Regions from separate parts of the Homo sapiens genome. Here region 2 is linked to region 1. Evidence: fine-mapped expression QTL. A gene starts in region 1. The other region holds a variant in brackets. All regions are shown on one strand. Distances are from middle to middle. Region 1 holds the start of FAM230C (family with sequence similarity 230 member C). Region 2 overlaps FAM230C (family with sequence similarity 230 member C).

The links. PIP is the estimated chance that this variant, and not a neighbour inherited with it, causes the effect. A credible set is the group of variants that fine-mapping cannot tell apart.
Region 2: its variant is the best candidate, but not a certain one, in a credible set for the expression of FAM230C in stomach (GTEx, PIP 0.62).

What each region holds. Positions count from the first base shown.
Region 1 is chr13:18,194,145-18,197,062 of GRCh38, forward strand. FAM230C (family with sequence similarity 230 member C) reads left to right here and starts at 1,153. Exons shown (of 8, transcript NR_027278.1): 1 at 1,153-1,267. It also overlaps the pseudogene LOC124903223.
Region 2 is chr13:18,224,117-18,227,034 of GRCh38, forward strand. All of the region lies in intron 4 of FAM230C (family with sequence similarity 230 member C), which reads left to right. Among named protein-coding and RNA genes, the nearest start is that of FAM230C, 30 kb to the left of the region's middle. The variant G/A (reference allele first, on the strand shown) is at 1,474.

The DNA of each region.
Region 1 (2,918 bases):
GGAGGGTGTCAGGCGTGACATCAAGAGCTCTGCAGCCAGGGCCTGGGACAACCTCCCGCTCCACCTCCCCGGAGCCTCGCAGCCAGCATCCCCAGCGGCCCGTGCGCCCCGGCCAGGCGGGACCTCAGCGCTGTGGCGGCCGCAGACCTCACCTGGGCAGGCCCCGGGCTGCATGCGGACCGCCGGGCGCCCAGGACCCTAGAGGCAACCAGCGGGCTGGATCCGCACAGCGGCCATGGGGAATGGATGGTGTACAGGGGACAAAGCTACACACGTCTTTCATTTTGGAGGGGGGAAAAAAGAAAAAACGGAAATGAAAGATAGAAAATGTGTGGGCTCTCCGTCCTTTCCTTTGCTCCTGAGCGCTCTCTGGGGTGGGGGGCTCAGCGAGCTTCAAGAGGTGGCCGAGATTCCCCCACCTCGCCCCCAGATCCCCGGGAGAGGTCAGCACGGCCCCTCCCGTGGGTGTCACAGAGACCGATGCGGGTCCCGCTCCCCGGGAAGGAGTGGGTCTGGGTCCAGTCCACAGGATCCCCTCGCGGATGCTGACGCAGAATGGAGTTGAGGTGGGGGCAGCGCTGGACCCCAGGGTCCCTCCCTGCCTCCTGGGGAGCCCGGTGACCCAGGCAGCCCTGGTGAGGCCGCAGGAGTCTGGGCCCTAGCGACGCCCCCGGGCTCCCACAGGACGAATGTAGACGGTGAGGCCAAGGACGCCCTGCTGCCCTCGGGACTGTCCCTCCAGCCCCCAGCTTTCCGTGGCTATTGGGCCCCCTCTGCAGAGGGGCAGGGGAGCCCACCCTGGATCCTGAGGCGCCGAGCTTGAGGGACCCCAGAGCTCCAGCCAGGCCGCTTTCTTTGAGGATGGTGAAGCTGAGGTCCCGAGGAGGGCAGGGGCAGGTCCCGGGCGCTCCTCAGGCAAAGGGAGCCGATTTAGGGGCTGGGGTCACAGGAGGGGCTTCTGCGACCTCTAGGGCCCTAGAGCCCGGGAGGATGACAGACTGGGGGCCTTTCTTCCACCCCTGGGGCTGGGCAGACGCTCAGCCTGTGCAACCCGAAGCTGCTTCTGCCCAGTCCCAGCCGCGGCCCCTTTAAGAGGGGGTGGTGCTTCAGCCTGGCGCCAGGGACGCTGCCAGCATGCAGGCCCCGAGGGAAGCCGAGACTGCGCTTCGTGCGAGGCCCGGGCAGCATCGGCGGCGTGGTCAGAGCGAGTCTCGGAGAAGATGTGGTGGCTTCCGTTTGTTGGTGGAGGAGGTGGCAGGCCTCGGCGGTAAGTGGAGGGGGATGAACCCCACCTGGAACCCTCTGGGTCTCCCTACTCCTTCCCGGCCGCTCCCTGCTTTCGGGCCCTGACTTCTAAGTGGGCATCTGGGCCCGAGTCGTCAGCGTTGGGGCGGTTGTGGGATCCTGGCCTCTGCAGCGTCCACACCCCCGCCGGGAAGGCTATGCCCCGGTCCGACCCACGTCCAGCCTATAGGAGCGCCCTGGCCCAGAGCCGGCGGTGAAGCGCTGGACTGGGTCCCTCCGAGCCCCACGGGCCTCTGAGCTGGGGTCTAGGGTTATTTTTTATGCCTCAGGACCTTTAGAAAGAGACCTCGCTAGAGCAGGGGACATCTGTAGTTTCAATTCTTTGAGGAGTTTCCAGCTATTTAACTGTTTTCCATGGTGTGTACCCTAATTTTCATTTCCACCTACAGTGTATGAGTTCCCGTTTCTCCAAAACCAAACCCCCATTCCAATTTTTTTTGTTTTTGTTATTTCGAGACGGAGTCTCGCTCTGTCTCCAAGGCTGGAGGGCAGTGGCGCCATCTCGGCTCACTGCAACCTCCACCTCCCGGTTTCAAGCAATTCTCCTGTCTCAGCCTCCTGTGTAGCTGGGACTACAGGCGCCCGCCACCACGCCCGGCTAATTTTTGTATTTTTATGTTTAGTAGAGACGGGGTTTCACGATATTTGTCAGGCTGGTCTGAAACTCGTGACCTCAGGTGATCCACCCGCCTTGGCTTCCCAAAGTGCTGGGATTACAGACGTGAGCCACGGCTCCCAGACCCTCCTATTTTTAAAAAATTTTTCTAGGAATATTCAATAAGTGTGAGACTATCTGCGTGTGGTTTTGAATTACAGTATTCTAATGAATAGTTAATTTCGAGGACCTTATCTCTTATCTGTTGTTCGATTTTATATCTGTGCAGAATTGTCTCTTTAGGTTATTTGCGAAATATTAGATTGGATTCTTTTTCTACTTTGTACTCTTTTTTGTGTACACGTTAGTTGACAACTCCTCGTGAATTACATGATTGCCTGAAATTTTTGCATAATCTATGGGATGCTTTTTTATTTGGAAAGTAGTTTTCTTTGCCATGCAGAAACTTTTCACGTTGATGTAGTCCCATATTTTTTTTTTTTTTGCGTTTTATGCGTGTCATAATGGTCACCCATATTAGAAAATATGCATCAGTAACAAAGCATTTAATTGTCAGTGAGGTTTTTCTTCCAGGGTGTTTGTTTCTTTTCCTCTTTGCAAAGGTTAACAGAGATTCAAGTGACCCAAAATATATGCTCAACCTGTGTTTTACTTAAGTAAACACAGTAATTTTTTAAAAAACATTTTGTGGTTTATGGTATTTTGTTTTGGCCTTCAGTTGATGGGGGGGGCGGTTGATTTTCATACATCGTGTAAAATAAGGGTCCTGTTTCTCGCTTTTGCATCCGGATATCATTTTTCTCAAAGCTATTCATTGATCAGACTCTGCCTTCCACATTGTGGTGTTCTTTATCAAAGTCAGTTGACTGTGTCCATATTTGTGTTGTTTTTGTCCTCCCTGTTTTTGTCCATAGTTCTAGGTATTTCTTTTTATGCAAGTACCATATATCTACTGCATAACTACAACTTGGCAATTTAATTTGATATCAAGGATTGT
Region 2 (2,918 bases), 30 kb after region 1:
AAGAACCAGCTTTTGGTTTTATTGATTTTCTGATGATTTCAGTGTTTTAATTTTATTGATTTCTGTGATGTTGTTTATTACTTTTACTTGCTTTCCATTGCATTCCTCTATTTTCTACAGTTCCCTAATTGAAACATGATATTACTGATTTTAGATCTTGTGATTTTTAGTATATTACATCCAATGCTATAGATTTCCCTCTAAGGACTGCTTTTGCTACATCCAGAAATCTTGCCAAGTCACATTTTCTTTTAATGTAGTTAAAAGTATTTTTAATTTTCTATTGAGACTTCTTCTTTAACCCATGAGTTATTTAAAACTGCATTGCTAATTTGCAAATATTTGGGGATTTTGTGGCTCTTTTACAGTTGTTGATTTTTTGTTGTCAGGTATGTGTTGCAAAAGCAGTCATCTACCTCATCTTGCCACCACCCAAGATGGCCCAGGATGTGGGCTCTCCCTGAGTGAATCTTTGGCAATCTGCCAACCTGATGTGGTCGGCCTCCTTCTTTAGTCTGAGCTTGTCTTCTGCTTAGAAAGGGCCATTCTCAGTTCTGGCAGGGAGTTTTCCCAACATTGAGAAGGTGGCATTCTTACTCCCCAGTGCAGCCTGCACCTCTGACCGGTGGTCAGCAGACAGGACAGAGGTCCTCATTAGACAGAGTTCAGCGGGGTCTCTGACCAAAGGGCATCTTCAGAGTCTGCACCTACCCACTGTGACCATGGGCAGGCTCTGAGTCCTAAAGCAGGAGGAACCGTGCGACCATCCTGATTGGAAATTTGTGAGGATCACCATGTTACTCAAGTAAGGTCTTTGGAAAGTGTCGTATTACTACTGTTTGTGAACTTCTTGTTGGTGGCCTGGCTGAGCCACACACTTTATGAAAACCAGGACCCCTCAGCTGGTGTGGGTGTCTATGCAGCCTGAGACCCTCATGTGAACAGCCTCGTGGTAGCTGTCTTTGCCCCTTGCCACCATCAGTGCCTCCTTGTTCCTGGGCACTGCTTTCTCTGATGGTGCTCCATTGTTTTCCTGCACCTCAGTGTCTACAGCTGGATGTCTCTTCTGCAATCTAGGTGAGGGGGCATCAATAACAGTTCTGCTGTGGCACTGCCCTCCTTCTTAGCTTGTCTTGCTCCGTCTTAGGCTCCCTCAAAGATCCCACCCTTCAGGTTCTTCCACAAGTTTCTTATTGAAATCCGAGCAGAAAACTATGACCAATATGACCAATCGTATACCCACTGAAGACATGAATGTAGAATTAAAACAATTCTCCATGGACTCTACCATATAGATCCCTAGAAGTAATTTCTAAAAAAAAAAAAAAATCAAGGAAGATGTAATAGTTTTCCATAAATTAGAATACCCTACATGTACAATTAAATGAAATGGCTAGTATAGTCTTGAAACCAAAACCAGATAAGGTAAATTAAATTCTGTGATATTTTAAAATACTGTAAATTCTGACTAAT[G/A]TGAGTTAATCTCAAAATATGAAATAGTAGATTAACATTGAAAATGCAATAAATAAAATTAGCTACCTCAAGAGTTTAATGGAAAAAAATGTGATTATTGCAATAGATTCAGGAAATTCGTGAATAACATTCACCCTATATTTGTAGGACAACTATCTGATTAAGTGACCTGTGACAACCATTTGAATTAATGCTGCTTTCACAGCATATCTCTTGGCTTGTTAAAAACCCGACAAGAATTTCCATAACATTAATTTATTTTTAACACCTATATTGGGTGTGAACCCACCATAAAGTTTGCCCACTGAAAAGGTCTGCAATTTGATGCTTTATTAAATTGATACTGTGTGCACCCAACACCACGATCTAATTTAAATATGTTTCCCTCACCCAAGTTCTCTCTTGTGCACTGGCAGTTAATCCCCACTCCCATCTCCAGCCCTAAGCAATACTGCTGTGACATTCCATCTCCATAAATTTCCCACTTGCTTTATAGAAATGGACATATATATATATTTGGAATCTGACTTCCTTCATTTAGCATACTATGTTTGAAGTTAATTGACGTGTTAGCACGTGCTGGTCATGTGTTTTCCTTCATAGTCTGCTGTGTTTATTCATACAGATAGTGTTTATTCATTTATCAGTTAATGGACATTTAATTATTTTGTTTTTTTCTTTGATGAGTAATGTAGCTTTGAGCATTCATATACAGTCATGTAATGCATAATGACATTTTGGTCAAAAAAAATTTTTTTTTTTTCTGAGACCCAGGCTGGAGTGCAGTGGCACAATCTCAGCTCACTGGAACCTCCACCTCCCAGGTTTAAGCAATTCTCATGCCTCAACCTCCCGAGTAGCTGGGACAACTGGCACACACCACCACGCATGGATAATTTTTGTATTTTCAGTAGAGACAGGATTTTGCTGTGTTGGTCAGGCTAGTCTCAAACTCCTAGCCTCAGGTGATCCGCCCACCTCTGCCTCTCAAAGTGCTGGGATTATAGGCATGAGCCACCACACCCAGCCTAATTTTTTTAAGAAACGAGAACTATTTTCTAAATTACTTTTGCCAATTTATATTCCTACCATGATGCATAGTACTAATTTCACTGTACAATGTATGGTAGGCCCCAATATGTAAGAAATGATGAAAGTAACACATAAAGATTAGTATAAAACAAATGAGATTATCATTGTTGCTATCATCTTTGTCAAATTCTGAAAACAATCTGAGTATATTTTTATATAAATATGCTTGGCAACATAGCTGAAAAAAGCATTATCAGTTACATTTATCAGTAACAAAGACATAAATTTGAAGGGGGAAAAACACTTGTACTAACAACGCAATGTCAGAATTAACATAAAAATTCTGCTGGTCACTTTGGAATATTTAATTGCCTGGGGCAGTGTTTAGTAGACAAATGAGCAACTATGGAGCA